Homo sapiens: one gene and its partner. The protein of the gene in region 1 purifies or fractionates together with the protein of each later gene. This does not show direct contact. Each region holds a gene or a part of one and is shown on either strand. Other genes may lie near its edges. The genes, in order: CHST12 and ATP23.

What was found.
Region 2: the proteins of CHST12 (region 1) and ATP23 purify together in Homo sapiens (affinity purification with mass spectrometry; 2 studies listed by BioGRID and IntAct, with this or other methods). This does not show direct contact.

Annotation. Positions count from the first base shown.
Region 1 is NC_000007.14:2,426,176-2,436,774, forward strand, and holds part of CHST12 (carbohydrate sulfotransferase 12), read left to right. Parts: intron 1-6,387; coding exon of another isoform or gene 6,388-6,464; coding exon 6,465-7,709; 3' UTR 7,710-10,599. UniProt on the Homo sapiens protein: Catalyzes the transfer of sulfate to position 4 of the N-acetylgalactosamine (GalNAc) residue of chondroitin and desulfated dermatan sulfate.
Region 2 is NC_000012.12:57,951,510-57,962,108, forward strand, and holds the end of ATP23 (mitochondrial inner membrane protease ATP23 homolog), read left to right. Parts: intron 1-248; coding exon 249-386; intron 387-2,096; coding exon 2,097-2,180; intron 2,181-5,177; coding exon 5,178-5,381; 3' UTR 5,382-7,639; downstream 7,640-10,599.

The DNA of each region.
Region 1 (10,599 bases):
GTCCTTAGCAAGAAGCCAAGGCAGGAAGGTGGCCCAGGGTTGCCCCAGGATAGGACCTGGCATGGAACCTCAGGGGCTTGGTCACAAGGGGCTTCAGAGCCAGGCTGATGTGATGGGGGCCTCTGAGCCTGAGATTCACTCGGTATTGACTGCACCCTACCATGTGCATGCACGTGGTGAGCACAACCAGACGGAGCCCACCCTCCCCAGCTATGTGAGTGAGAGCGGGAGTAATTAAACATACACACCCCAAATAAGCACACAGTTGCTGATGGGACCTATGGAGAGTGCATAGTCTGGGATTTGACCCAACTGGGAAAGACTTCGCTGAGCTGGGGATGAGTAGGTGTCTACTGATGACGGGGCAGGGGCGGGTAGACAGATGTCCTTGCCTTGTTCATGATCTTGGTGGTAAGGTACTCACTCTTGCACCCTTAATTATGAGGTTAGCTGTAGGTTTTTTTTTTTAAAGCACTCAGATTGTTGCTAATATTAAAAAAATATAACATACAAGAGTGACAGGAGAGACATACAGTCCGGGTGTGGTGGCTTATGCCTGTAATCCCAGCACTTTGGAGGCCGAGGAAGGTGGATCACTTGAGGTCAGGAGTTCAAGACCAGCCTGGCCAACATGGTGGAGCTCCATCCCTACTAAAAATACAAAAATTAGCCGGGTGTCAGGGTGGGCACCTGTAATCCTAGCTGCCTGGGAGGCTGAGGCATGAGAATCACTTGAACCTGGGAGGCGGAGGTTGCAGTGAGCCAAGATCATGCCACTGCACTCCAGCCTGGGTGACACAGCGAGACCCTGTCTCACAAAAGAAAAAGAGAGAGAGAGAGAGACATATAAATGAAAAAGTACTCAGTTTAAGAAATTTGTAGCACTTTGCAAGGCCGAGGTGGCCAGGCTGAGGCATGAGAATCACTTGAACCCGGGAGGCGGAGGTTGCAGTGAGCCAAGATCATGCCACTGCACTCCGGCCTGGGTGACACAGCGAGACCCTGTCTCACAAAAGAAAAAAGAGAGAGAGAGAGACATACAAATGTAAAAATACTCAGTTTAAGAAATTCATAGCACTTTGCGAGGCCGAGGTGGCCAGCTTGCTAGAGCCCAGGAGTTCAAGACCAGCCGGGTTAACATGGTGAGACCACAACTCTATAAAAAATTTTTAAAAATTAGCCCGGCCCAGTGGTGTGTATCTGCAGTCCCAGCTACTTGGAAGGCTGAGACGGGAGGATCACTTGAGCCTAGGAGGTCAAGGCTGCAGTGAGCTGTGATTGTGCCACTGCACTCCAGCTTAGGTGACAGAGCAAGGCTCTGTCTTGAAAAAAAAAAAAAAAAGTTTACACATTTGTTTGAAGATGAAAAGTTCAACACAGTTTGGGCCTTCCATCTGCCACCCCCCCCTACAGAGATGATAGAAAAATGGTACAGCTGTAGGGTGTTTGTAGATGCCCTATAAGTTGAGGATATCCTCTTTGCTAAGTTTGCTGAGAGTGTTTATAATGAATGGATATGGGTTTTGTTGTTCCTTCCTGTAGGAGTTGATTTTTTAGCTTGTTAATATGATAGATTACATGGTTGATTTTTGAACATTGAGCCGTTCTTGCATACCCTACTTGGTCATGCCGTGACTCCTTTTTGTTTGTTTGTTTTTTGAGATGGAGTCTTGCTCTGTCACCCAGGCTGGAGTGCAGTGGTGCGATCTCGGCTCACTGCAACCGCCACCTCCCAGATTCAAGCGATTCTCCTGCCTCAGCCTCCCGAGTAGCTGGGACTACAGGCACCCGTCACCATGGCCAGCTAATTTTTTGTATTTTTAGTAGAGACGGGGTTTCACCGTGTTTGGATCTCCTGACCTCGTGATCCACCCACCTCGGCCTCCCAAAGTGCTGGGGTTACAGGCGTGAGTCACTATGCTGTGATTCTTTCTATACACTGCTGGATTTGGTTTATTAATATTTTGAGCATTTTTGCATCCAAGTTCATAAGTGATATTGGCCTGTAGCTTTCTCTCTCTCTTTTTTTTTTTTTTTGAGACAGAGTCTTGCTCTATCACCCAGGCTGGAGTGCAGTGGCACAATCTCGGCTCACTGCAAGCTCTGCCTCTCGGGTTCAAGTGATTTTCCTGCCTCAGCCTCCTGAGTATCTGGGATTACAGGCGTCCACCACCATGCCCAGCTAATTTTTTGTATTTTTTAGTAGAGACGGTATTGTGGGATCTGGCCAGAAGCCCACAATGCAACGGGGCTCTTTTATTTGTTCCCAGGCGGATCAGCAGGTCGAGAAATAATAGACACACACAAGACAGTGAAAGCTGGGTCCGGGGGGTGACCGCCTTCTGGTCCTGCGATGCCGCCAATGCACTGGATATACCAGCATTTATTATTAAGTTTAGTGAGGGCGGGGGTAGGTTAGTGAGGGATTTAGGGTCATTTGATTATGAGGTGAGATGGTCACATGGGGATGAAGTAATTCTTTAACATAACATCTGTATGCAGAAGTACAGTATACAGAGATAAGAATTTACAATATAGCATGTGCATCAGTAATTTCTAACAGCCTTAAAACAGAAACACAGGCTTTCCATAACCTATGATTAGCAAGATATTAATCAGCAGTAATAGTTGCAGCAAAAGCTGGTTACAAACAATCCATAGAAACAGGACGTGAAGCTAGACAGCCAGTTAGACCAGAAATTCTCAGAAGGGAGTATGCCTTAACCCTAAAGAGGCCTAGAAGAGCCGTGGCAAGATGAGGGCGTTTATAGCACTATCTTATCCATATGGACAGGCGCCCCCCATGCGTCCGTTTGTAGGCTCTCCACAAGGGTCGCATTCCATTCCCAGAGCTATGAACATCTGCTTTTCTGGGATAGGAATCTTGGTGATGTGAAAGCTCCCTGACTGCATGTCCGTTCATAGGCTCTCTGCAGGGGGAAGCATATCACGTGCTGTTGGCTCATTCTGACAGTCCAACCTGGCATTGTCTTTACACAATCCTGAATGCAACTTTGTATTTACAGTAATCAGGAGCATTTCATCTTTTATTCCATAGCAATAGTTTCAGGGGGTCTCCCTACAAGACAGGGTTTCGCCATGTTGGCCAGGCTGGTCTTGAACTCCTTGACCTCAGGTGTTCCTCCTGCCTCAGCCTACCAAAGTGCTAGGATTACAAGCGTGAGCCACGACGCCCGGCCTCTTTTTTTTTGTACTTATTTTCACTGGTTTGGGTATTAGGATGATGAGTTGGACATGTCCTCTCTTCTCCTTTCTGTAAGAGATTGTATAAAATTGATGTTGTTATTCTTTGAATGTTTGATAGAATTCTTCAGTGAAACCATCTGGGCCCAGAGATTTCTTTTTAAGGAGCTTTTACGTTACAAATTTAGTTTCTTTAATTAGTATAGGATTATTCATTTTGGTAGTTTGTGGTTGTCAAGGAATTGGTCTGTTTCATCTAGGTTGCTAAATTTGTGGGCGTAAAATTGTTTGTAATAGTTCCTTATCCTTTCAATGGCTGCAGGATCTATAATTTCATTCCTTGTCTTGTTCCTGATAAAGATAATTTGTAGGTTTTTTTCATTTGTTTGGTTGGTTTTTTGTTTTTGTTTTTCTTTTGAGACAGGGTCTTGGTCTTGCTAAGACCAAGGCTGGAGGGCAGTGGCACGATCTCGGCTTACTGCAGCCTTGACCTCCTGGGCTCAAGCGATCCTCCTGCCTCAGCCTCCAGAGTAGCTAGGACTACAGGTGCATGCCACCATGCACGGCAGATTTTTGCATTTTTTATAGGGATGGGGTTTTGCCATGTTGTCTAGGCTGGTCTTGGACTCTAGGGCTCAAGAGACCCTCTCGCCTCGGCTTCCCAAAGTGCTAGGATTATAGGAGAGAGCCACCGTGCCCGGCCTTTTCTGCTTTCTAATGCTCTTGGCACCACAGTGACTGTAACATATGTTGTATTTTCATTCTCATTCTATTCTGTGTACTTTAACTTTTTCCTTTGCTATTATTTAGAAATGTGTCATTTATTTTCCAGGAATTTGTGTTTGTGGATTTTCCTGTTGTCTTTTCTGTTATTGATTTCTAGTTTTATTCCTTTATATAAAATATTTCAATTCTTTTATTTTTATTTATTTATTCATTTTTATTTATTTTTTTGAGATGGAGTCTTGCTCAGTCACCCAGGTTGGAGTGCAGTGGCACAATCTTGGCTCCTTGCAACCTCTGCCTCCTGGGTTCAAGCGATTCTCCTGCCTCAGTCTCCTGAGTAGCTGGGATTACAGGCGCCTGCCACCATGCCCAGCTAATTTTTGCATTTTTTTAGTAGAGACGGGGTTTCACCATGTTGGCCAGGCGGGTCTTGAACTCCTGACCTCAGGTGATCCACCTGCCTTGGCCTCCCAAAGTGCTGGGATTACAGGCATAAGCCACCATGCCCAGCCTAAATTTTGTATTTTCAGTAGAGACAGTTTCACCATGTTGGCCAGGCGGGTCTCCAACTCCTGATCTCAAGTGATCCACCTGCCTCGGCCTCCCAAAGTGCTGGGATTACAGGCATGAGCCACCACACCCAGCCTAAATTTTGTAATTTCAGTAGAGACAGGGTTTCACCATGTTGGCCAGGCTGGTCTCCAACTCCTGATCTCAAATGATCCACCCGCCTTGGCCACCTGAAGTGATGGGATTACAGATGTGAGCCACCGTGCCCTGTCAAGATTTCAATTCTTTTAAATTAGCTGAGGTTTGGTCTACCATGGTGAATGTTTTGTGGACACTTAGAAAAAACTGTGTTCTCTTGTTAGGTGAGTGTTCTGCATATGTCGGTTATGTCCTGTTGGTTGCTGGTGTTGAGTTCTTCTGTATCCTTGCTGATTTTCTGCCTCATAGTTTTGTCAGTTATCAAGAGTGAAGTGTTGAAGTCTCCAGCCATAATTGTGGATTTGTCTGTTTATCCTTTAGCTCTATCGATTTTTGCTTTTTGTATTTTGAGGCTCTGTTGTTTGGTGCATACATGTTTAGGATTGTTATGTCTTCCTGGGGATTGAACTGTTTGTCATTATGTAATGTCCTTTTGTCTCTAGTAGTTTCCTTCCTTCTGAAATTTGCTTCATCTGATATTAAGATAGCCACTCCTGCTTTCTTTTCATTAATATTTGCATGATTAATGTTTTCCATTCCCGGGAGAGAGGAGGTGAGAAAGTAGAGGGCCAACTTGCCCCACCTCTAACCACCTCACGCCATGTCATGGGTGCCAGATAGGGGTGGAGTAGAGTTGGAGTTCAGCTCCTACTGGGCCCTGACCTGGCTGGGGGAGAGGGAGTCAGAGTGTGGACTCTCCTGCCTCACACCATCTCCTTCCACCTTGTGGATGCCAGGTGGGGTCAAGGCTTAGCTCCCTGCTGGACCACACTGACAGTACCCTGGTGGGACAGACAGAGGAAGCACCTCTACTTCCATGGGCAGAGGAAGGGGTATCAGCTCCCAGCTCAGCCCCACCAACACCCCCTGGTGCCTGGCAGGGGAATAGCAATGTGCCACTTACTTTTGGGAAGCCAGGGTGGTGTGGAAGGTCAGCTCTCAGGGTGGCCCTGATGAAGCTGTAGGGTGCAGTTTTTCCATTGGCATTCGACTTAAGTAGAGTGGGTGTTGCCAAAACAATTTTCCTGTTGTTGGGTCACTGTGAAGTTAAGGAATGGTTCCCAAGACCCCTCTTACTTATGACACCAATAGCAAATGCAGGCGTCCCTGAGACCACTGTGGGGTTTGATGATTTGCTAGAAAGATTACAGAGCTCACTGATCACAGTTATTCTTGTGGCTATGGTTTATTATAGGAAAAGGATATAGATTCGAAGATTAAAATCAGCCTTGGCAGGAGAATGGCGTGAACCTGGGAGGTGCAGCTTGCAGTGAGCCAAGATCGGGCCACTGCACTCCAGCCTGGGCGACAGAGCGAGACTCCATATCAAAAAAAAAAAAAAAAAAAAAAAAAAAAAAAAAAAATCAGCCTTGGGAAGAGTTGCAGAGGGCAGAGTCCAGGAGGGCTCACACCTGGAGCTGGTCTCCACTCCCTGGGAGGCGTCCTCTTCTTGGGAGTTGTGGGCAATATTACTTTCCCGCCAGTGGCGAGTGTCAGCACATGTGGAGTACTGCCAGCCAGGGAAGCACGCGAGCCTTGGCGTCCAGGGTCATTACTGGTGCTCGGGCACATGGATGTGTAGACTCCCTGCACTGCTGACCTCAGCCTCCAGCCCCTCTGGAGGGCGAGCTGATATCACGTGGCCCAGCGCTCCTGCTCCTCCGGACCCCAGTCCCCCACTGATCAGAAGGCAGGAGTCAGAGCCCCAGTGCACCTCAGTCATTAACTAGTGTGTCATTGCATCTGCAGGTTCCCAGCAGGATGCCCCGGCTCTGCAGGAAGCTGAAGTGAGAGGCCCGGAGAGGGCCCAGCCCGCCCGGGGCAGGATGACCAAGGCCCGGCTGTTCCGGCTGTGGCTGGTGCTGGGGTCGGTGTTCATGATCCTGCTGATCATCGTGTACTGGGACAGCGCAGGCGCCGCGCACTTCTACTTGCACACGTCCTTCTCTAGGCCGCACACGGGGCCGCCGCTGCCCACGCCCGGGCCGGACAGGGACAGGGAGCTCACGGCCGACTCCGATGTCGACGAGTTTCTGGACAAGTTTCTCAGTGCTGGCGTGAAGCAGAGCGACCTTCCCAGAAAGGAGACGGAGCAGCCGCCTGCGCCGGGGAGCATGGAGGAGAGCGTGAGAGGCTACGACTGGTCCCCGCGCGACGCCCGGCGCAGCCCAGACCAGGGCCGGCAGCAGGCGGAGCGGAGGAGCGTGCTGCGGGGCTTCTGCGCCAACTCCAGCCTGGCCTTCCCCACCAAGGAGCGCGCATTCGACGACATCCCCAACTCGGAGCTGAGCCACCTGATCGTGGACGACCGGCACGGGGCCATCTACTGCTACGTGCCCAAGGTGGCCTGCACCAACTGGAAGCGCGTGATGATCGTGCTGAGCGGAAGCCTGCTGCACCGCGGTGCGCCCTACCGCGACCCGCTGCGCATCCCGCGCGAGCACGTGCACAACGCCAGCGCGCACCTGACCTTCAACAAGTTCTGGCGCCGCTACGGGAAGCTCTCCCGCCACCTCATGAAGGTCAAGCTCAAGAAGTACACCAAGTTCCTCTTCGTGCGCGACCCCTTCGTGCGCCTGATCTCCGCCTTCCGCAGCAAGTTCGAGCTGGAGAACGAGGAGTTCTACCGCAAGTTCGCCGTGCCCATGCTGCGGCTGTACGCCAACCACACCAGCCTGCCCGCCTCGGCGCGCGAGGCCTTCCGCGCTGGCCTCAAGGTGTCCTTCGCCAACTTCATCCAGTACCTGCTGGACCCGCACACGGAGAAGCTGGCGCCCTTCAACGAGCACTGGCGGCAGGTGTACCGCCTCTGCCACCCGTGCCAGATCGACTACGACTTCGTGGGGAAGCTGGAGACTCTGGACGAGGACGCCGCGCAGCTGCTGCAGCTACTCCAGGTGGACCGGCAGCTCCGCTTCCCCCCGAGCTACCGGAACAGGACCGCCAGCAGCTGGGAGGAGGACTGGTTCGCCAAGATCCCCCTGGCCTGGAGGCAGCAGCTGTATAAACTCTACGAGGCCGACTTTGTTCTCTTCGGCTACCCCAAGCCCGAAAACCTCCTCCGAGACTGAAAGCTTTCGCGTTGCTTTTTCTCGCGTGCCTGGAACCTGACGCACGCGCACTCCAGTTTTTTTATGACCTACGATTTTGCAATCTGGGCTTCTTGTTCACTCCACTGCCTCTATCCATTGAGTACTGTATCGATATTGTTTTTTAAGATTAATATATTTCAGGTATTTAATACGAAATGTGGAAGGGAATGCTGGAGTAAAATATCCCCTCTCCCCTCCGCCCGCCCACCCGCCCGCCCGCTCGCCCGCTCGCCCGCTCCTGTGGTTTTTCTGAGCGTGCGGGCGCCGGGAGGGGATGCTGAGGCTGATGGAGCTGCCTCCAGGGCTAGGGCCACTCACCGGAGGAGGGCGGGGCCTGCACTTGAAGTCAGGCCGCACCTGTCTGTTTTTGGAAGGGTAGCCGACAAATCCTTCCAGAGGGAAAGTTCTTTGTTTAAGTGTTGTACTTGAAAAGGTCAATCTTCAGGGCTTCCTGTTTGAAGTCAAGTCAGAGGTAAACCGGTCAGTTACAGAAGCAGGATTTCTAGGATTTCTAACTCCAGCTGTTCCCATACTGTCTAGTTTAAATTATGGCTGTTAAGGCCGGGCGGGTGACTCAGGCAGGTAATCCCAGAACTTTGGGAGGCCCAGACAGAAGGATCGCTTGAGGTCAGGAATTTGAGACCTGGCCAACATGGTGAAACCCTGTCTCTACTAAAAAAAAAAAAAAAAAAAAAAAAAAAAAAAAAAAAATGAGTCGGGTGTGGTGGTGTGCACCTGTAGTCCCAGCTACTCAGGAGTTCTGAGATGGAAAGATTGCTTGAACCCAGGAGGCAGAGGCTGCAGTGAGCTGAGATCGCGACATTGCACTCTAGCCTGGGTGACAGAGTGAGATTCCATCTCAAAATAAATAAATAAATATTAATACATTATGGCTATTAAGGCTGGGCACGGTGGCTCATGCCTGCAATCCTGGCACTTTGGGAGGCTGAGGGGGGAAGATCACTTGAGCCCAGGAGTTCAAGACCAGCTTGGGCAACATAGCAAGGACCTCATCTCTACAAAAAATAAAAAGGACGTGGTGGTGCACATCTGTAAACCCAGCTACTCAGGAGGCTGAGGAGGGAGGATCACTTGAGCCCAGGAGTTCAAGATCAGTTTGGACCACATAGCGAGACCCTGTGTCTACAAAAAATAAGAAAATCAGCCGGACATGATGGTGCACACCTGTAATCCCAGCTACTCGGGAGGCTGAGGCAGGAGGATCGCTGGAGCCCAGGAGTTCAAGGCTGCAGTGACCTATGATCGTGCCACTGCACTCCAGCCTGGGCAGCAAAGTGAGACTCTGTTTCTAAATAGACAGATAGAAGATAGGTAGATAGATAGATTAAATAGAAAGTAAACTATGGCTGTTGAGGTTTACAGTTGGCAGGAGTGGAGTGGTTTGGCGTTTATCTCTAGACCGTGCTGGATGACAGTACCCAGTGTCACCAAGAAGAGGCTCCGTGTGACTGTCTCTGTGGCTTTCTGGTTGGTTTAGCTCCAGTGCCTTCACCCTCAAGGACACGACTGACCTTGAACCCTCAGGTTTGATGGGCCCTGTCTTGATAAAAGTGTCAGAGGAGGCTCTGGAAACATCTGGCTGAAACTCCTTTGCTATTTCTGCTTCTAAGCTGTAGTTGGAGAGATGGTTGCAATCATTTCGTGGTGTCGGGCACCCTGCTTGACCTGTCTTCCTCGTGTGTGGTATTTGTCACCACTGCCCAGTCCCTGGTTGCTGGCCACGCTCAGTTGGGACATACCCTGGTGTCCTCTGTGTGTGGTGTCCCTGTGTTTCCCAGGCTCAGGTGGGCTTGTGTGGGTCTTGGCCCCCAGTGCCTGCTAGCCTCAGGTGTCCCCTGTGTTAGACACCTCCTGCCTTCCTTTCTGAAGCTTCGCTTTCTTTTATTTTTGTTTTGTTTTGTTTTTGGAGACAGGGTCTCGCTCTGTCATCCGGGCTGGAATACACTGGTGCAATCACAGCTCACTGCAGCTTCAACCTCCTGGGCTCAAGTGATCTTCCCATCTCAGACTCCCAAGTAGCTGGGGTTACAGGTGAGCGCCAGCCTGCCCAGCTAGTTTTTTATTTTCAGCAGAGATGAGGTCTCACTGTGTTGCCCAGGCTGCTCTCAAACTCCTGGGCTCAAGTGACCCTCCTGCATCACCCTCCCAAAGTGCTGGGATTACAGGCATGAGCCATCACACCTGGCCCCTCCAAGTTTTTTATTATGATAAAAATGTTTAATTTTAAACGTACCATCTTAACCATTGTTAAGTGCACTGTTGTGTGGCATTAAGCACATTCGTATTGTCGTGCCACCACCACCATCATCTCCAGAGCTTTCTCATCTTCCCAAACTGAAACTCTGTCCCCATTCAGCACTCGCTCCCCATTGGTAGAAGGCAGCAGCTTCCACTCTCTGATTTCTACTACCCGAGCTCCCTCAGAAATGGAGTCACACAGTATTGGTCCTTTTGGGACTGAAGTACTTCACCTCATGCAATGTCCTCTAGGTTCATCGGTGTCGTGGCAGGTGTCAGAACTAACTTCCTTTCTGAGGCGGAATAATGTCCCATTGTGTGGAAGAGGCATGGTTTGTTTATCTGTTCATCAGTTGGTGGACACTGAGTTGCTTCTGCCTTCCTGCGAATGTGAATTGAATGCTGCTGTGAACAGGGTGTCAGTGAATCTGCTGAGGGCTTGTTTTCCGTATTCTGGGCATGGCCCTTTGTGTCTGCCTTTGCTGGAGCACCTCCCCGGGATGCGTTTGTTTATAGGATGTTCAGACGAATGTCAGAACCCACTGGGCGGTTCACTCACTGAGGGGGGCCCGCGTCCCCTCCATTTCTGCATTCCCAGTTCTTGGTATGG
Region 2 (10,599 bases), on another chromosome or scaffold:
TAAGTACTGCTGTAGTCCAGAGAGAGGAGAAGGGAGAAGTTAGTCACTGGGCGAGGCAATTGGAGCATGTACACTTAGGACTAGGACTTGTCCCATGGGTAGATGTGTGGCCAATGAAGAAGAGTGGGTAGAGATATTCCAGGCAGGTGAGCTTGTGGGGGAGAGGTGAGGTCATGTGGGAGAGAAGATCGAGTCTATGGAAGGAGATTTTAGAATCACTGAACTTCTTTTATTTTGGTGTCTCCTAGATAGTTTTGTGCCAGAATAATATCCATAATCAGGCCCATATGAACAGAGTGGTCACACACGAGCTTATTCATGCATTTGATCATTGTCGTGCCCATGTCGACTGGTTCACCAACATCAGACATTTGGCGTGCTCAGAGGTGAGTTTTATTGTATTTTTCTCCAGAATACTCTATGCTTGAATATTTTATTCAAGTGTAATTTATTTAAATGTATTCCTTTTCTTACTGTCATAGTTCTACCTTAGTCTTGAATTTCGGTTTATAACTAACATTGAATACCATTTTTGATATACAGTTAGAGAAATTTAAAGTGTATTTTTAGAATTCTCTTAACTATATCCTGTAAGTCCTAGTAATAGTGATGACTGACTTTAATAAGCTATTAATTTTTTCCTATGGAATATATTTTATAATGTATTCCATAGGAGACATTAATAATAAAAATAAAAATAAAAAAATAATTAAAATTTACTGAGGGCTGTGTTCCAAACACTGTTCTGTTTGCACAGATTCTTATTTAATCTTCACAATAACCTACTGAGATAGATATTATACTATTATTGTCCCTGTTTTACATATGTGGAAAGTGAGACAGTTGTTTAGATTCCAAAGTTAGTAAGTGGTAGAGGCAGGATTACAACTAGTGTTTTTAACTAGCTTGCCCAGCTGCCTTCCATAGAGCTCCTTGCTTGCCCTAGAGTAAAACATGCTCTTTTCAAAAATACAACATAAAAAGATATTTATTACTAAGCACGTTGGATTGCTCTTGGAATATGCTCCTAGAGAGAGCGTATTCTGCATATGCATATACTTGGATGTCATTAATTGAAGAGTTAATTAAAATAATCTAAATCTCAAGCCTATACTATATAACTTCGATTATTTCCCTTTCTCTTGAAATTAATATGTAGCCCCCTGCATCTAATTATAATTCCAATTATTTGGAGAATAGACTGAAACCTGAATTTTTAAATAGGTCTCTTTCTTGGGTACTGTGAGAATTAATGCCTTTTAGCTAGTTAAAGTGTGTTAAGTACTTTGAGCTCCTCAGAGGAATGAGGCCATAATATTGAAGAAGGAACAAGAAGTGGGCCATTCTGTTAGCAATGAATTAGCAAAAATGTGGTCAAGCTGCCTGTAGAATCTATGTGGGTAGTTCTAAGACTTTTTCATTCATTGAAGTATAGTAAATCTGAAAATATGTCCTAATTTCAGGCTGTCATGCTCATAGCGTGACCAGTTTGGAATGTTCTTGATTCTTTGTGTTTTGTATTGCTTCATTTTTCATAGGACAATCAAGTCCCTAGAGGAAGGTCATGAACTTATATAGGTTTGAGGGAAGCTCCAAGGGAGATTCGGGCAAGGGTTGGGAGGGGCATATTCTCAAAGTGTCTCAGATATTAATGCATTCAGTTTTAAGGTCACATTGAAACTCAGTTTATTTCAAGAATGCTTTCTTGAAGTACTTTTGGCAATTTCTACAAGTATTTGTATCTTGTAGAGTGTGTAGTTTAACTCTGAGGTCTAGCTCTCTGACTTTTGGTTCCAAAAGAAATTAGTTCTGTCAGTAAAGCTACGCATAAAGTTTAGAAAATTTCCTTTGGTAGGCGATTGAACTTTTCCCCATCTCTCCAGTGTATTTGGCATTGTCTAGCATAGCTCATAGATATTTGCTCTCGTTGTCAATAGAGTTTAAAAAGTCCTTTAAGAAGAAGTGTCACAAATACTCTTTTCTCAGACAAAGATGCTAATTTTATATTCTTTTCTAATTTTTAAAAATTGGTTGATATCATAAAGATATATAGAGCATGAGCGTTTATTTCTTTTTATTTGTCTTCTGTGTGATAGGTTCGAGCTGCTAACCTTAGTGGAGACTGCTCACTTGTCAATGAAATATTCAGGTTACATTTTGGATTAAAACAACACCACCAGGTAAAAACTAATATGAAATCACTTCCCCTCCAGAGTGTTACGAGTGGAAATAATGAATAAAGAAATGAAAAGTACATTCAGTATTTGAAATTTGAAAGAACTTCGTATGTGAAAAGAATACAAAGTATGTACCATTTAAACAAAGTAGATGGAATTTAGTTCTACTTTGTAATTATGGGCAAGCTATGTGACTCAATGAGTGTGTGAGATAGTCTAATAATGAAAAGAGGCCTGGTGCGGTGGCTTATGCCTCCCAGCAGTTTGGGAGGCCGAGGCGGGCGGATCACGAGGTCAGGAGATCGAGACCAGCGTGGCCAACATGGTGAAACCCCGTGTCTACTAAAAATACAAAAAAATTAGCTGGGCGTAGTGGAGCACACCTGTAGTCCCAACTACTATGGAGGCTGAGGCAGGAGAATCACTTGAATCTGGGAGATGGAGGTTGCAGTGAGCCGAGATCATGCCACTGCACTCCAGTCTGGGCCACAGAGTGAGACTCCATCTCAAAAAAAAAAAAAAAAAAAAAGGAGCTAAGATCTTGCATCTGGGATACTTTTCGATGGGGGTGGATAAGGAATGGAAGTGAAATCACAGCATGTCTTACTGTTATTCTAACAATTCTTGACTTCTATTTTGAATCTACCATAGCATTCTGGAGACAAAAGATGTAATCCCTTTCAGAACAGAGAGTGTGTTGCTGCACAAGTTATGGCTATGTGTCAGTGTACCTGTAAAGGCTATATAATGTGATAGAAAACCTTTGGCTTAGCACAGACTTGAGTATGATGAGCTTAGCTGAGAGGGATTTGTGTGAACAAAACAAAAACAAAAAACAAAAGAGAGCTATAAGGCAAGATTATCCTGGTAGAAAGGCTTTGAGATCTGTATTAGGTGGACGTGGGGAAAGAAAGTATAGGACTCATGGATTGATAATGAATGTGAGCAGTTCTGCCTGGGCCTGTGTCCACATTTAGGAGAAAGGCTGGTCAGTCATTTTCTACAGTAAGAGCCTGCTGAGTCAGTTTGTGAAGTATATGAGCATCACGATATCAGTTCCAACTAGATGAAAAAAGATAGGCTTAGGACAACAGGAAGGCCCTTGGTTTTCTGGAGAAGAGAGTAACTCAACTCTGGAGTGGGGGGTGGAAAGTCACAGTGAGCTACTCAGAAATTGTGAACTTAGTGAATGGGAGGGAGAAGAAAAGCCTTCTGCCTGGAAAGGGTGATTACTCTAGACAGTGAGGTGTTCAGCCTCTGCCAGGTCAGCTTAGTGATATGCCAGTGACTTGTCTTGTGCTGCATGTTTTCTGTGCCCTTGAGTCCCTGCTTCTCTGGTGAATTCTGTGTGTTCTGGCTGTCAGTGGAGAGGGTGGAAGCAGGGTACACATCAGCACGCCCCTAGAGAAGAGAATAATGTGGTTAAAGCATGTGCTGGCATAGCTTATGGATATCTGCTCTTGTCAATAGAGTTTGAAAAATTCCTTAAAAAAAAAAACTATTACATATACTCTGTTTTTAGAAAAATATGCTAATTTTATATTCTTTTCCAATTAAAAAAAAATCAGTTGATATACTAAAGAAATAGAGCATGTTTTTTTTTTTTTTAATTCACCTTCTATCTTTGTGATAGGTTTGTGATGCACACAATCTTTGAAAGAGGAAGTTTTCCTCTTTTTACCATTGGGTAGCAGCAGCAGAAAACAAATAGAAACAGCAATAGGACAGAAAATAAGTGGAGGTAGTAGGAATCTGGCTGAGGGAGAAGAGTCTTAGAGAATGGAGTCCCTGCTTTTGTACAGCATGTACCCAGGAAATAGAAACAGCAAGTACAGTTACTGATTGTAAAATTGCATAGTCATATCTTTATTTTAACAGAAATTTATTATGTCTGAAAAGAAGTAAATCTGTGGTCTACACTTGTGTCTCCCAACCCTGTGGCTTCAGGAGACAAATTTTTGTACCTTTTTTCCCTGGAGGGGAGAAATTTCCTCTCTTTTTAGCAACTGTTGTTTTGGCTTCACATGGTTCTTCCTTTTCTTGTTCCTTTATGCCTGGGGTTTATTTTTTAAAATCAGCGTTTAGTAAAATTCAGGTTGAGAAACACTATATTCCAATGTTAGTGAATATCTCCAGCTTGAGCACACTGACCAGGCCAATGAAAAACTGGGAACATGTGGAGAAAACGGATGGCTGTCAGGATGCACAGCCATCCAAACCAGTGTTTGATTATTTTTAGGAAAAGGTCAAATGCCATTCTTTTGAGTTTTAGATTGGTCCTGGGGAGAAATAAATGGATTAAAAGCTCTCCAAGAATTGGAATGGCAGGGCCTTATATTTCTTAAATATTTAAATTAGAGTATTGAGAAATTCTAGCCTATTACTATGAAATGTTAGGTAAATTATTATCTTAGAACTTTAATATCTGTGTAAAGAACAATCAGGAAAAAAAAGTTGTTTAATTTCCACACCCCCTAAAAAATTAAGGTACATTCCAAGTTCGGGTGGATATGTGTATGGTTTCCTGTTGCCTCCAGAGAGGACTTACCCTTCTCAAAGGAAAAGTTATCTAGCATTGGTCAACTGAAAAGAAAGAGAGGTACAGAAGTGAAGTATATTTTAAATTTAATTAAATTTTATCAAAAAGTCAATCAGGACTTTATAGACTTTTTTTTTTTTTTTGGCGAGTTTGCAAATTGGGAGATATTGTTTGGCAGACACTGCCAAGAATTTCTGAGAATGACATCTGCTTATATCAGTGGGAAAGATGAGAAAATGGAGAAGGTCTTACTTATGCCTAAATAATTTTAGGTTGAGCTAAAAATACTCCTTAAGTGTTATGGATCTTTGTTCATTTTGTTTTCTTCTTTGGAATGACAGAAATTAGTAAAATAATATGAGGAAATTAATTTTAATTAATTCAGACATTAGATAAAATGTATTATTTCGTGATTAAATGTTTATATAAAATTAGAGCCTCATACTTTTCCTTCTTTTTAGACTTGTGTGCGAGACAGAGCCACTCTTTCTATCCTGGCTGTTAGGAATATCAGCAAAGAAGTAGCTAAAAAGGCTGTTGATGAAGTTTTTGAATCTTGTTTCAATGACCATGAACCTTTTGGAAGGATCCCACATAACAAGACTTATGCAAGATATGCTCACAGAGACTTTGAAAACCGTGATCGGTATTATTCAAATATATGAGCACAATGACATTTTTATATTACAGAGCTTCCATCATCATGAAGAAAAAAAAATTTGGTTCTCAAGTGAACAAACATATAAAATGTAAACAATCCCTACAATCCAGATAAAACAGAGAAGACTGTGATTCTAGCATATTATCAGAAAAAGTAACTATGGCAAAAAATGAAACTGCTTTAAACTCCAAGGCAGAAATTGTATCTTTATAGCTAACCATTTAGTAAATAAATACATTACATTTTTGTATTTTAGTCATTTGTTTTTATTACATGTGATTATTTTAAAATTTGATTATGAAACCTGTGAAGTGTGCTCTTCCATGATGTTGATAGGTGACCACTGTTGGTATTTACATTAAATGTAAAGAAATGTGTACTGATCTCATTGTAGGATACTTATTGAGCTGTTGTTATGATGAAAATTGGAAATAATTCATTCAGTGGTCAATGCTATCCTCTCCCTATTCTTCTTTTATCATATATGTGGGACCCATATGGCCTAATTTTCTGGGGACAGTCCTGGTTAGATCTTTTTCTTTTTAATAAAGGCAGTGCTCGAATTTTAGCTCCAGATCGACTGCAAGAACAAACCAGCAATACTGAGAGGACCCACAGACCCTCTGAAGGAAGCGACTGCTCCTACAGTGCCCAGGAGACACCCCAAATACTGTGAGTGCCCAACTGCAGAAGTGGGAAAGGGAGACCCTCCTCTCCCACACACACCCCCCCACTGGAGAAACTGAAGGTCTGTTTGTGGGAGAAGTTTCCGACCTTACCTGGAGCTGAGTTAATTTAGAGAGCCGAGCGAAATACAGGGGTAGAGCAAGCAGCAGGAAGGCCCAGGGAGCTCGCTGGGTCCCCAAGCAGCCCATTCCTGCCTGTCACCACAGAGATCCATTGCAAGGGCAGCCAGAAGAGCAGCGGGTAAAACTCCACAGGGAGAAGGACATCTCTAGCTGAACTTTGTAACTATTTCAATGGGGCAAGAAGCCTCCCGGCCAGAACTTGGGAGAGGGCACAAATCCCATGTGCAGAATCCACAGAGGGGAAGAACCAAGCTCTTTTCTTTCACAGCTGGGAGGTGGGTAGCCTGGGGCAAGTTTTCAAGCCTGTCTCACCCACCACCTGGAAGCAGACTTGGGGCTGTGGTGGGGGGCATGGTGGGAGTGAGACTGGCCCTTCGGCTTGTGTGGGAGCTGGGTGAGGCCTGTGACTGCCGGCTTTCCCCTACTTCCCTGACAACCTGCATGACTCCCCAGAGGCAGTCATAATCCTCCTAGGGACACAACTCCAGTGACCTGGGAATCTCACCCTCATCTCCCACAACAGTCACAGCAAGACCTGCCCAAGGAGAGTCTGAGCTCAGACATGTCTATCCCTGCCCCGACCTGATGTTCCTTCCCTACCCACCCTGGTATCTGAACAAAAAGGGCATACAATCTTGGGAGTTCTAGGGCCCCACTCACCACAAGTTCTTCTCCATACTACCACAACTGATGCTCTCTGGAAAGCGCTACCTCCTGGCAGGAGGCCAGCCAGCACAAAAATAGAGCCTTCAACCACCAAAGCTAAGAACCCTCATGGAGTCCATTGCACCCCCCCTGCCACCTCCACTGGAACAGGTGCTGGTATCCACAGCCGAGAGACCCATAGACGGTTCACATCACAGGATTCTGTGCAGGCAACCCCCAGTACCAGCATGGAGCTGGGTAGACTCACTGGGTGGCTAGACCCAGAAGAGAGACAACAATCACAGCAGTTTGGCTTACAGGAAGCCACATCCATCGGAAAAGGGGGAGGGTATACATCAAGGGAACACCCTGTGGGACAAAGGAACCTGAACAATGGCCTTCAGCCCTAGACCTTCCCTTTGACAGAGACTACCCAAATGAGAAGGAACCAGAAAACTAACCCTGGTAATATGACAAAACAAAAGCTCTTTAACACCCACAAAAAAATCACACTAGTTCACCAGCAATGGATTCAAACCAAGAAGAAATCCCTGATTTACCTGAAAAAGAATTCAGGAGGTTAGTTATTAAGCTAATCAGGGAGGCACCAGAGAAAGGCAAAGCCCAGTGCAAGGAAATCCAAAAAATGATATAAGAAGTGAAGGGAGAAATATTCAAGGAAATGGAGAGCTTAAAGAAAAAAGAATAAAAAATTCAGGAAACTTTGGACACACTTTTAGAAATGCAAAATGCTCTGGAAAATCTCAGCAATAGAATTGAACAAGTAGAAGAAAGAAATTCAGAGCTTGAAGACAAGGTCTTCAAATTAACCCAATCCAAAAAAGACAAAGAAAAAAGAATAAGAAAATATGAACAAAGCTTCCAAGAAGTCTAGGATTATGTTAAGTGACCAAAACTAAGAATAATCAGTGTTCCTGAGGAAGAAGAGAATTCTAAAAGCTTGGAAGACATATATGGGGGAAATAATCAAGGAAAACTTCTCTGGCCTTGCGAGAGACCTAGACATTCAAATACAAGAAGCACAAAGAACACCTGGGAAATTCATCACAAAAAGATCATTGTTTAAGTACATTGTCACTAGGTTATCCAAAGTTAAGATGAAGGAAAGAATCTTAAGAGCTGTGAGACAGAAGCACCAGGTAACCTATAAAGGAAAACCTATCAGATTAACAACAGATTTCTCAGCAGAAACCCTACAAGCCAGAAGGGATTGGGGCCCTATCTTCAGCCTCCTCAAACAAAACAATTATCAGCCAAGGATTTTGTATCCAGTGAAACAAAGCATCATATATGAAGGAAAGATACAGTCTTTTTTCAGACAAATAAGTGCTGGGAGAATTCACCACTACCAAGCCACCACCACAAGAACTGCTTAAAAGGAGCTCTAAATCTTGAAACAAATCCTGGAAATGCAACACATCAAAACAGAACCTCTTTAAAGCATAAATCACACAGGATCTGTAAAACGAAAATACAAATTAAAAAGCAAAAGTAAAAAACCAAAATACAGAGGCAACAAAGAGCATGATGAATGCAATGATACCTCACATTTCAATTATAACATTGAATGTAAATGGCCTAAATGCTCCACCTAAAAGAAATAGAACCACAGAATGGATAAAAACTCACCAACCAACTATCTGCTGCCTTCAGGAGACTCACCTAACACATAAGAACTCACATAAACTTAAACTAAAGGGGTGGAATAAAGCATTTGATGCAAACGGACACCAAAAGTGAGCAGGGGTGGCTATTCTTACATCAGACAAAACAAACTTTAAAACAACAGCAGTTAAAAGAGACAAAGAGGGACATTACATAATGGTAAAAGGCCATGTCCAACAGGAAAATATTACTGTCCTAAACATATATGCATCTAACACTGGAGCTTCCAAATTTATAAAACAATTACTAATAGACCTAAGAAATGAGAGACAGCAACACAACAAGAGTGGGGGACTTCAGTACTCCACTGACAGCATTAGACAGGTCATCAAGACAGAAAGTCAACAAAGAAACAAGGGATTTAAACTATAACTTGGAACAAATGGACTTAACCGATATATACAGAACATTTCATGCAACAACCACAGAATACACGTTCTATTCAACAGTGCATGGAACTTTCTCCAAGGTAGACCTTAGGATAGGCCATAAAATGAGCCTCAATAAATTTAAGAAAATCAAAATTATATCAAGCACTCTCTCTGACCACAGTGGAATAAAACTGGAAATCAACTCCAAAAGGAACCATCAAAACCATGCAAATACATGGAAATTAAATAACTTGCTCCTGAATGAGTATTGGGTCAAGAACGAAATCAAGATGGAAATTAAAAAATTCTTTGAACTGAATGATAATAATGACACAACCTACCAAACCCCTGGGATAAAGCAAAGGTGGTGCTAGGAGGAAGGTTCATAGCCCTAAATGCTGATATCAAAAAGACTAAAAGAGCACAAACTGACATTCTAAGGTCACACCTCAAGGAACTAGAGAAACAAGAACAAACCAAACCCAAACCCAGTAGAAGAAAGAAGTAACCAAGATCAGAGCAGAACTAAAGGAAATTGAAACAGCAATAACAACAACAAAAATACAAAAGATAAATGAAACAAAAAGCTGGTTCTTTGATAAGATAAGTAAAATTGATGGACTATTAGCAAGATTAACTGAGAAAATAAGAAAGAAAATCCAAATAATTTCACTAATAAACAAAACAGGAGATATTACAACTGACACCACTGAAATACAAAGGATCATTCAAAGCTACTGTGAACACCTTTATGCACATAAACTGGAAAACCTAGAAGAGATGGATAAATTCTTGGAAAAACACAATCCTCCTAGCTTAAACCAGGAAGAATTAGATACCCTGAACAGACTAATAACAAGCAGCGAGATTGAAATGGTAATTAAAAAATTACCAACAAAAAAAGTCCCGGACCAGATGGATTCACAGCAGAATTCTACCAGACATTCAAAGAAGAATTGATACCAATCGTTTTGACACTATTCCACAAGATAGAGAAAGAAGAAACCCTTCCTAATTCATTCTATGAAGCCAGCATCACCCTAATACCAAAATCAGGGCAGGACATAACCATAAAAGAAAACTACAGACCAATATCCTTGAAGAACATAGATGCTAAAATCATTAACAAAATACTAGCTAACTGAATTCAACAACATATCAAAAAGATAATCCACCATGATTAAGTGGGCTTCATACCAAGGATGCAGGGATGGTTTAACATACACAGTTCAATAAATGTGATACACCACACAAACAATTAAAAACAAAAATCATGTGATCATCTCAATAGATGCAGAAAAAGCATTCAACAAAATCCAGCATTGCTTTATGATTAAAACTCTCAGCAAAATGGGCAGACAAGGGACAGGTATGTCCCTTGTAATAAAAGCCATCTATGATAGACCCACAGCCAACATAATACTGAGTGGGGAAAAGTTGAAAGCATTCCCTCTGAGAACTGGAACAAGACAAGGATGCCCACTCTCACCACTCCTCTTCAACATAGTACTGGAAGTCCAAGCCAGAGCAATCAGACAAGAGAAAGAAATAAAGGGCATCCAAATTGGTAAAGGGAAAGTCAAACTGTCACTGTTTGCTGGTGATATGATTGTTTACCTTGAAAACTCCAAAGACTCCTCCAGAAAGCTCTTAGAACAGATAAAAGAATTCAGCAAAGTTTCTGGATACAAGATTAATGTACACAAATCAG